Linked DNA regions of Homo sapiens. The protein of the gene in region 1 purifies or fractionates together with the protein of each later gene. This does not show direct contact. Each region holds a gene or a part of one and is shown in the gene's direction. Other genes may lie near its edges.

Region 1 (5,131 bases):
CGCTTAGCTGAAGGGTTTTGTCCCAGCCTCTGTGGCCTTCTATAGCTGGAGGAGCTGGGTCTGGGCTCTAGGGGGGGTGGGGGTTGTTCTCCACCCTCGGGCTGGCCCCCAGCCGCTGAGCCACACCGGTTCCCCCATGCCGGATGCCGCAGGGGTGAAGACTCTGCTCTCTGGGGTGGGAGGCTCTCTGCGATCCTGGAGCGTCTGTAGGCCAACGAGAGGGACAGAGTGTGGCCCAAAGGGTTGGGCAGGGTCTGTCAGGAGCCCGGTCAGTGTCAGGGGAGGGGCAGTGTCTGGCACCGCTGGCTGCCATGCTCCACCCCCGCGCCACGGCCTTGGTGCCTGCTGCTCTCCCTGACCCTTTCCTAAACCCAAACAGAGCATCTGAGCAGCCCCTGAGCCCTGGCCAGCCTCTGCTTGGGAGGGGAAACGGGCCATGAGGAAGCACAGGCCACAGCAACACAGGGGGCTCCGGTGGGCACACGGGGCATGGCCCTGCTCCCTCTGGGCCGTGGCCTCCCTGGTGTGAGGGAGTGGAGGGGTAGCTGGCAGGGCTGCAGGAACACCCCACGAGGGCAGAGGCTGGATAGCTGCTGATGGCCCGTGGTGGATTCTGGGAGCTGCTTGTGCACATGGGGAAACCGAGTCTTGGGAGGAGTGAGGTGTGCCCAGGGCCACATGGTGCTGGGGGTTGCTACTTCTGGGATGGCCCTGATCTCTCGTCTTGCCTGGGTAGGTAGAGGCAGAACCCCTGGGTGGTGGGCAGGCCAGCTGGTGGGAGGGATACTGGTCCAGGATCCCCTCCTTGGAGGTAGAGATGCTGTGTGGGTAGGGAGATGGGGGGTTGGGTGTGGGAGACCCCAGGGGCTCCAGGACAGGGGGCCGAGGAGGGGCAGCCCTCCTGGGAACCCTGGAGCTGCACAAAGCTTGGAGGGCCCAGCTGCTCGTGTCTGTGGCGATGGCAGCGGTGCCCAGTGGCTCCCCCCCACGCTGCTTCTCCTTGAAGGGCCTTCAGTACCCCTTTAGCTGCCTGCCAGGCCTCAGTGTCCAGCAGTGAAGGAGACAGAGGTCCCCTTCATGGAGCCAGCAGGCTGGTGGCTGTGCAGAGGGGCAATGGGGAGGGATGGGAGGGCTTCCCGGGGCTCGGGGCAGGTGCAGAGCCTCCTTGAGTAGGAGGCTGGATGGGCCACAGGCAGGCTGTGTGGCCCTCCACTGGCCAAACCCTTGGTCTTCAGAGAGGTCTCTGGGTGCCACCTCTGCCTTTGGCTGCTGGAGGTGGCTGGGCTTCCCCTGTGGCCAGTGCCTGCAGGTTCCCTCCCACAACCGCCCCAACCTGCCCCTGCACCTCTCCTCCTCCCCTGCCGGTTCCCCTCCCCCACGACCGCCACCTCCTGGCTTCGTGCCTGACTCGAGGTGAGAATTGGGCCGTGCTGTGGATGGGGTGATGGCCTGGCCACTTGGCCTACTGCCAGGAGAGGCCGGGGCCAGAGGGGCCATCCCCTGTCCCCCACTTGGATTTATAGGAAAGCTCCTCCTGGGCTGCAGGGAGCCTTCTGGACGCACTTTGCTGACCCCTGCCCTTTGCGGCCCTCTGCTGTGGGTGCTGGAGTTTGCCGTGATGGCCCGGGTGACCCTGGGTGGCCAGAAGCCACAGCAGTTTGGCTGCACCATGGCCTGTTCAGGGTGGCCCGGGCCATCAAGGCATTTGGTCTGGGAGTAGCTGGGCAGAGGGCAGCGGCCTGACTGGGCAAAGCCTGCCCCAGCTCTTGGTCTCAGAGGAGGGACTCGGGCCTTTGACCACTACTCTGAGCAGCGCAGCCTCCAGGCTTGAGTGGGTCCTGGCTGTTGGCCTGTTGGGTAACAGGTGTTGGGCTGGCTTTCTCTGCTTAAGGAGCTCTGGAGGGGGGCTCTACCTGCTTGTCCTGAATAGTGGCTGCCCCCTCCCTTGGCTCCAGCAGAGCTGGTAGCTAGGCCCCGGGGGCTGCCGGGATTGGGTGTCCCACTGCCCTGGCTTGGTGTCCAGCTGGAGGGGGCAGTGCCAAGGGCCCTGTCTCACCCCAGAGGTGGAGGGGTCTCCCCAGCCTTCCTCACCGGGTGTCCCTGACCGCCCTATCCCCTGCAGGCTCCTGCTTCTGGGTGGCCGTGCTGGATGGCAACGTGGTGGGCATTGTGGCTGCACGGGCCCACGAGGAGGACAACACGGTGGAGCTGCTGCGGATGTCTGTGGACTCACGTTTCCGAGGCAAGGGCATCGCCAAGGCGCTGGGCCGGAAGGTGCTGGAGTTCGCCGTGGTGCACAACTACTCCGCGGTGGTGCTGGGCACGACGGCCGTCAAGGTGGCCGCCCACAAGCTCTACGAGTCGCTGGGCTTCAGACACATGGGCGCCAGTGACCACTACGTGCTGCCGGGCATGACCCTCTCGCTGGCTGAGCGCCTCTTCTTCCAGGTCCGCTACCACCGCTACCGCCTGCAGCTGCGCGAGGAGTGACCGCCGCCGCTCGCCCGCCCGCCCCCCCGGCCGCCCTGTCCGCCTTTGCCCGCCTGCCCGCCGCCCGGCGCGGCCTGCTTTCAGACGCTCAATTGGCGTTTGTGTTGGGTTTCCCCTTTTCAACATCCTGCGGTTGTCTGGCTGGTTCCGGGGGGTGCGGGGCTGTTGTTCTTCGGCGACACTTTGGTGGGGGTGGGTTGTTTGTCGCCATAGCCCCTCGCCCTTCCCCACCTGCCTGGGCGGCTTGCCACCTGAAGAGTGGCATCTTGGACCACCGCGGCTGTCCATGACGCTGCCCTGCCCGCCGCCACTGGGGAAGGCCCAGCCTTGCTCACCAAGCACAGAACCTCTGCAGCAGATCCCGGGGCCAGGCTCCGGCCCCGCCTGCGGCCCCAGCGCCACTGCCTGTGGAGGCCCCAGCTGGCCACGGCGCTGCTTTGCTCCGCGCATGCCGAGGGTGTGGCCCGGCTGAGCATGCCGCATGCACACAGCCCCGCCCTGCCGCCCTGCCCAGACTGGACCCGGAGACCCGGGCTGGTGAGCGCCCCTGTCCCCAGCCCCCAGCTGGCTGTGGGAGGGCCTGCCCCTGCCCCCACCTCCTGGAGGGCCTGGTCTGCCCCGCGCCGCCCGGCTCTGTCCACACCTGCTTTGCTCTGACGCCCTCCATTTCTCTGGCTCCGGCCCCTCCCCTGCCTGGGCTGTGCTGACTGGTGTCATCACCCAGGTGACTCCCATGGCGTCCGTGGCACAGCCAGGGTGGGGGTCCATGGGACCCCTCTCCCCAGTGCCCACTGGATCGTGCTGGCCTCTCCCAGATGTCCCCGGGGACCTCCTGCCTCTGGCTGACGGTCCACCCTGTGAATCTTATCAGCCCAGGCTGCTGCCAACAGCGCCCAGCCCACAGCTTCTCCCAGCCTGAAACCAACACATTTTCTAATAAGTTATTTAGACAGAATAGCACTCTGCATGACTTTAATTCTTGGGACAAAACGGTAGTTTGTACCCTAAGACACAGTTTCTGGCCCAGTGTGATGGGGGTGGGTGGCCGGGTGGGTGGAGCGTTTTGCTGTTGGAAACCTGGAGGGAAACCCTGATTGGATGTCATTTCCTGCCATGGAGCACGCCTCCCAGCCCTGGCCTGCAGTGTGGGCAGGGTGGGGGGCAAGGGAGTCCGCAGCCTCCGGGAGGAGGGGCAGGGCGCTGCCTTGGGCTGGGTGGGAAGAGGGGTGGCCGCCTCGGCTTCCGCTGGCCATGCTCCTGGTCTCTCCTTCCTGAGGTCACAGGCAGGGGCTGCCCTGGACGGGGGGCGGGGGGGGTGGCCTGGAAGGGGAGACAGAGGTGGAGGGTGGCACAGGCTGCACATTCAGCTTAGAAGTGGACCTGGCTTTGGTGGCAGGAGAAGAATAAACACTTGCCCAGACCCCTTTGTGTGGGGGAATTGGGGAGGGGTCGTGGCAGGCAGGGTGGGCCACGGAACTGGGTCCCAGGCATCAAGGCCACGTGCAGGGCCATGGAGGGATGCTTCTCACGAGGCGCTTCAGAAGCGAGCGAAGGGACAGAGAAGCCCTGCGTCCAAGGGCCTTTTGTCCTGTTAGCAATTGAGGTGTGCAGAGCACTGTACAGACCCCACTCCCCTGTACATTCCTCCCTGGAGGTGCCCGGTCCCCGCTTGGGGATGGGAGTTTTGTAGACTGTACAGAAATCGGCACCCTATTTTCTTGCAGCTCAGATTTTGTTAATCTGGAATATACAGACAGACGTAAAGTGTTTTAGCAAAATGGAAACAAACAGTTGTGCCTTTTTCCTCTTTTGGTTTGGTTTGGGTTTGGCCTGGGGCTGGTCCCAGTTGGTGCGGGGCATGCTGGGGGCAGGAGGGGCAGGGCGGGCCAGGTGGAGTCAGGTCTTGGGGGTGTCATGTCGGGGTGCTGCCAGCGTCCCTTGGTCCTGTGCCTTTGGAGCCTCGGGCTCCTGGGGTGCAGGGTGCTTGGGGGTGGCTGTTGGAGCCCACCGACGCCAGGGCAGGGCCTGGAGGCCCAGGGACTGCCAGTGTCTCCTTGATATTGATCCTAGCAGATCCCCCTCCTGGGGGTTCTGAGAGTCCTGGGCAGTGTGGCCTTCTCTCATTCTGGTGGCATCTGCGCCCGTGAGTGACCTCTTCCTTGGCTGCACTGCCCTGTGGGTGGTGAGACGCTTGGCCTTTTTTGTTGCTGCCAGGACTTGGTAGAGATGGCAGGAAGGGTGTGCGGGGTGGTTGTGTGCAGAACCCTGCCGCCCCTGAGGTGAGCAGAGGCACTGGTGTGCCTGCCAGGCTGGGGCGGAGCTGCCCGGAACCCTTGCCAGGCCAATGTGTAGCTTGGTGGCGCCCTTGAAGGCCACTGGGGGGTAGGTGTGTCCTCCCCCGGGGCTGGAGGCCGGGTGCCTGGTGGGTGGGCCTGACCTGGCCCACCTCATCCCTCCAGCCTGGGATCTCACTGCTCTGCACATGTGCACTGACGTGAATTTTATACGTTTGTAGAAACTCTGATGTAACTTCTTCTACCTCTGAAGCGCCCTCCTGGGCCCTGCTGTCACGTGGCTGGTGCGGCTTCCCCGAGTGCTGGCCCCCTGCCCGCTCCCCATGGGCACCCACCACTCAAACTCT
Region 2 (5,131 bases), on another chromosome or scaffold:
TTGTCATTGTGTTTTTAACCTGGATCTAGAAGTTACTGATCTGAAATTTACTATAATACTGGGAAACTCATTTTGGTTCCTTTTCAGTACCCCTGAAAGAGAAGCCTCTCATTTTATTTCAGAATGACACAGATGAGTACTATAATTGCTTTCTACTTGCCACATTGCAGTAAGGTACCTATAGATAAAGAGTTAATCAAAAAGATTTCAGTGACCCACATGTAACTCATTTCACCATTGATTTCTGTATTTTAGGGAACACTGGGAACATGTTTAAGATCGAACCGGTCCTAGGCATCATCACCATTTGCAAAGAACCAGACATGACGACGATGGGTCAGTTTGTCCTATCCATCAAAGTCACAGATCAGGGATCCCCGCCAATGTCTGCTACTGCAATTGTGCGCATTTCCGTCACCATGTCTGACAATTCTCACCCCAAGTTCATTCACAAAGACTACCAAGCAGAAGTAAATGAAAATGTTGACATTGGAACATCAGTCATTCTAATCTCTGCCATCAGTCAATCTACCCTCATTTATGAAGTCAAAGATGGAGACATTAATGGGATCTTTACCATAAATCCATATTCTGGAGTCATCACCACTCAGAAGGCCCTGGATTATGAGCGCACATCCTCTTATCAACTCATCATTCAGGCCACCAATATGGCAGGAATGGCTTCCAATGCTACAGTCAATATTCAGATTGTTGATGAAAATGATAATGCCCCAGTTTTTCTCTTTTCTCAATACTCAGGCAGCCTAAGTGAGGCTGCCCCAATTAATAGCATTGTCAGGAGCTTGGATAACAGCCCACTGGTGATTCGAGCCACAGATGCTGACAGCAACCGGAATGCTCTGCTTGTGTATCAGATTGTGGAGTCAACAGCAAAAAAGTTTTTCACGGTGGACTCCAGTACAGGTGCAATCAGAACAATTGCCAACCTGGACCATGAAACCATTGCCCATTTCCATTTTCATGTGCATGTGAGAGACAGTGGTAGCCCCCAACTGACTGCAGAGAGTCCCGTTGAAGTCAACATTGAGGTGACAGATGTGAATGATAACCCACCTGTTTTTACTCAGGCTGTGTTTGAGACTATCTTACTTCTACCTACCTATGTTGGAGTGGAGGTTCTGAAAGTTAGTGCCACAGATCCTGACTCTGAGGTACCCCCTGAACTGACATACAGCCTAATGGAAGGCAGTTTGGATCATTTTTTAATTGACTCAAACAGTGGAGTACTTACCATAAAAAACAACAACCTCTCCAAGGATCACTACATGCTGATAGTTAAGGTGTCTGATGGAAAGTTCTACAGTACCTCCATGGTCACCATCATGGTTAAAGAAGCCATGGACAGCGGCCTCCACTTTACACAAAGCTTCTATTCCACCTCAATCTCAGAGAACAACACTAACATAACCAAAGTTGCTATTGTCAATGCAGTTGGAAATCGCCTTAATGAGCCCTTAAAATACAGCATCTTAAACCCAGGAAATAAGTTCAAGATAAAATCTACCTCAGGGGTCATTCAGACGACTGGAGTCCCCTTTGACCGTGAAGAACAAGAGTTATATGAGCTGGTGGTAGAAGCCAGCCGTGAGCTGGACCATCTGCGTGTGGCCAGAGTGGTGGTCAGGGTTAACATTGAAGACATAAATGACAATTCTCCAGTCTTTGTGGGCCTCCCATACTATGCTGCTGTTCAAGTGGATGCGGAACCCGGGACTCTGATTTATCAGGTGACAGCCATTGACAAAGATAAAGGTCCAAATGGAGAAGTGACCTATGTCCTGCAGGATGACTATGGCCACTTTGAAATTAACCCTAATTCAGGGAATGTTATTTTAAAGGAAGCATTCAACTCTGACTTGTCCAACATTGAGTATGGAGTCACCATCCTAGCCAAGGATGGCGGAAAACCTTCTTTGTCTACATCTGTGGAGCTTCCCATCACTATTGTCAACAAAGCAATGCCTGTGTTTGATAAGCCCTTTTATACAGCATCTGTCAATGAAGACATCAGAATGAACACACCCATCCTAAGCATCAATGCCACCAGTCCAGAAGGCCAAGGCATCATATATATCATTATCGATGGGGACCCTTTTAAACAGTTTAACATTGACTTTGACACTGGGGTCCTGAAAGTTGTTAGCCCTTTGGATTATGAAGTTACATCTGCTTACAAGCTGACAATAAGAGCCAGCGACGCCCTTACTGGTGCTAGGGCTGAAGTCACTGTTGACTTGCTAGTTAATGATGTAAATGACAACCCCCCTATTTTCGATCAGCCTACATACAATACAACACTATCAGAAGCATCTCTTATTGGGACACCTGTTTTACAAGTTGTCTCTATTGATGCAGACTCAGAAAACAATAAAATGGTACATTATCAGATTGTCCAGGATACCTACAATAGCACAGATTATTTTCACATAGATAGCTCAAGTGGCTTAATCCTGACAGCACGAATGCTGGACCATGAGTTAGTACAACACTGCACTTTGAAAGTCAGATCAATAGATAGTGGCTTCCCATCACTGAGCAGTGAGGTTCTCGTTCATATCTACATCTCTGATGTAAATGACAACCCTCCAGTTTTTAATCAGCTCATTTATGAGTCATATGTGAGTGAATTAGCCCCCCGGGGCCATTTTGTAACCTGTGTACAAGCCTCTGATGCAGACAGCTCTGATTTTGACCGGTTGGAATATAGCATTTTATCTGGGAATGACCGGACGAGCTTTCTGATGGACAGCAAGAGTGGAGTTATCACATTGTCCAACCATCGGAAGCAGCGGATGGAGCCTCTGTACAGTCTCAATGTGTCTGTCTCTGATGGGTTGTTCACCAGCACTGCACAGGTGCATATTAGGGTACTTGGGGCTAACTTGTACAGCCCTGCCTTTTCACAAAGCACATACGTAGCTGAGGTGAGAGAGAACGTGGCTGCAGGAACAAAGGTAATTCATGTTCGAGCCACAGATGGTGATCCAGGGACTTATGGGCAGATCAGCTATGCCATCATCAATGACTTTGCCAAGGATCGATTCCTCATAGACAGCAATGGGCAGGTCATCACCACAGAAAGGCTAGACCGGGAAAACCCTCTAGAAGGGGATGTTAGTATTTTTGTGAGGGCCCTTGATGGTGGAGGGAGAACAACTTTCTGCACTGTGAGAGTGATTGTTGTGGATGAAAATGACAATGCTCCCCAGTTCATGACAGTGGAATATAGAGCCAGTGTCAGGGCAGATGTTGGAAGGGGCCACTTGGTCACTCAAGTTCAAGCCATAGATCCCGATGATGGAGCAAATTCAAGGATTACTTATTCCCTCTATAGCGAGGCCTCTGTTTCAGTGGCCGACCTCCTGGAAATCGATCCTGACAATGGCTGGATGGTCACAAAGGGTAATTTTAACCAGCTGAAAAATACAGTGCTTTCGTTCTTTGTCAAAGCAGTAGATGGGGGCATCCCAGTAAAGCACTCCCTCATTCCTGTCTATATCCACGTCTTGCCCCCTGAAACGTTCTTGCCATCATTCACCCAGTCTCAGTATTCCTTTACCATTGCAGAAGATACAGCCATTGGGAGTACAGTGGACACCCTGAGGATTTTGCCCAGTCAGAATGTCTGGTTCAGCACAGTTAATGGGGAACGGCCAGAAAATAACAAAGGGGGCATATTCGTCATAGAACAGGAAACAGGCACTATTAAGCTTGACAAACGCCTTGACCGTGAAACCAGCCCAGCTTTCCACTTTAAAGTAGCAGCCACTATACCCCTGGACAAAGTAGACATTGTGTTTACTGTGGATGTAGATATCAAGGTATTGGATTTGAATGACAACAAGCCAGTCTTTGAAACTTCAAGCTATGACACCATTATAATGGAAGGGATGCCTGTTGGCACCAAACTCACACAAGTGAGAGCTATTGATATGGACTGGGGAGCCAATGGACAAGTCACTTACTCCCTCCACTCGGATTCCCAGCCCGAAAAGGTAATGGAAGCATTCAATATTGACAGCAACACGGGCTGGATCAGTACCTTGAAGGACCTAGATCACGAGACAGACCCCACATTCACCTTCTCTGTGGTGGCCTCTGACCTTGGAGAGGCATTCTCTCTTTCCTCCACGGCCTTGGTCTCTGTCAGAGTGACAGATATAAATGACAATGCACCAGTCTTCGCGCAGGAAGTGTACCGAGGGAATGTGAAGGAGAGCGACCCACCGGGCGAGGTGGTAGCCGTCCTCAGCACCTGGGACAGAGACACATCCGACGTTAATCGCCAAGTGAGCTACCATATTACAGGTGAGTAAATACCCCCAGTTTTCATTATGTGCACTGCTTTATAAAGAAAGATGGAAGATGGCGGGGAGAAGAGTAAGAGAGAAGGAAGATGGGATAAGGAGTCCAGTGTAATGAAGCCTCTCTGGAGCTGAGTAAAGGATCTCTGAGCAGACTGCGTTTTTTGCTTGTTGGCTGTTGCTAACTCAGCCTTAGTTTGGAGTTCACAGGTTTGCTGTAAATGTGTTAACCATATTGGTAACTAGTCTTTGTGTCACCTCTTCCTATTTAAAAAGGAGTCCAGCCAAATATCTCAGTTGAAGGAATGAAAATAACAACTTTTTGGTGGAGAGGTTCTGTTTTTAAGCATGTTCCTTTTTTCTACCTTTTGCAATGCTGAGCAAAACAAATAGCTTGATCACAGTAAGCTTCACATGCACACTTCCCCTGGCCATGGCAACACCTGTGCACACATGTACACACATTAGATGGAATGGTTTGATCCTTCCCTGAGAAATCCTAAATTATCACTACAAATCAAGGGGTATTTCTTCTGACAACCAAAATTTTTTGGATTTCTTTTCTGTCTTTCAGAATAGCAAGTAGCAATTCAAGAGGAAAGCCAAGATAGACAAAGTCAGTCATTAGGAAGGCACAGAAAATGTCACTGTTGCCCTGAGAGGCTAAGGATTTCATGTCAGAGTGGTTTCCTGGGGGGCAGGCGACCTTTAACTGAAAGAGGAGAGGGTTGACAGTGTGGGAAGGTTCTTCCTAAAAACTATTTGGGGGGTGGGTTAAAGCTAATATTTTGATGTCGTCACATTCA

The links.
Region 2: the proteins of NAT8L (region 1) and FAT3 purify together in Homo sapiens (affinity purification with mass spectrometry, with the first as the bait; one large-scale study listed by BioGRID). This does not show direct contact.

The regions. Positions count from the first base shown.
Region 1 is NC_000004.12:2,061,638-2,066,768, forward strand, and holds part of NAT8L (N-acetylaspartate synthetase), read left to right. Parts: intron 1-2,122; coding exon 2,123-2,490; 3' UTR 2,491-5,131. UniProt on the Homo sapiens protein: Catalyzes the synthesis of N-acetylaspartate acid (NAA) from L-aspartate and acetyl-CoA. Promotes dopamine uptake by regulating TNF-alpha expression. Attenuates methamphetamine-induced inhibition of dopamine uptake.
Region 2 is NC_000011.10:92,797,581-92,802,711, forward strand, and holds part of FAT3 (protocadherin Fat 3 isoform 1 precursor), read left to right. Parts: intron 1-255; coding exon 256-4,329; intron 4,330-5,131.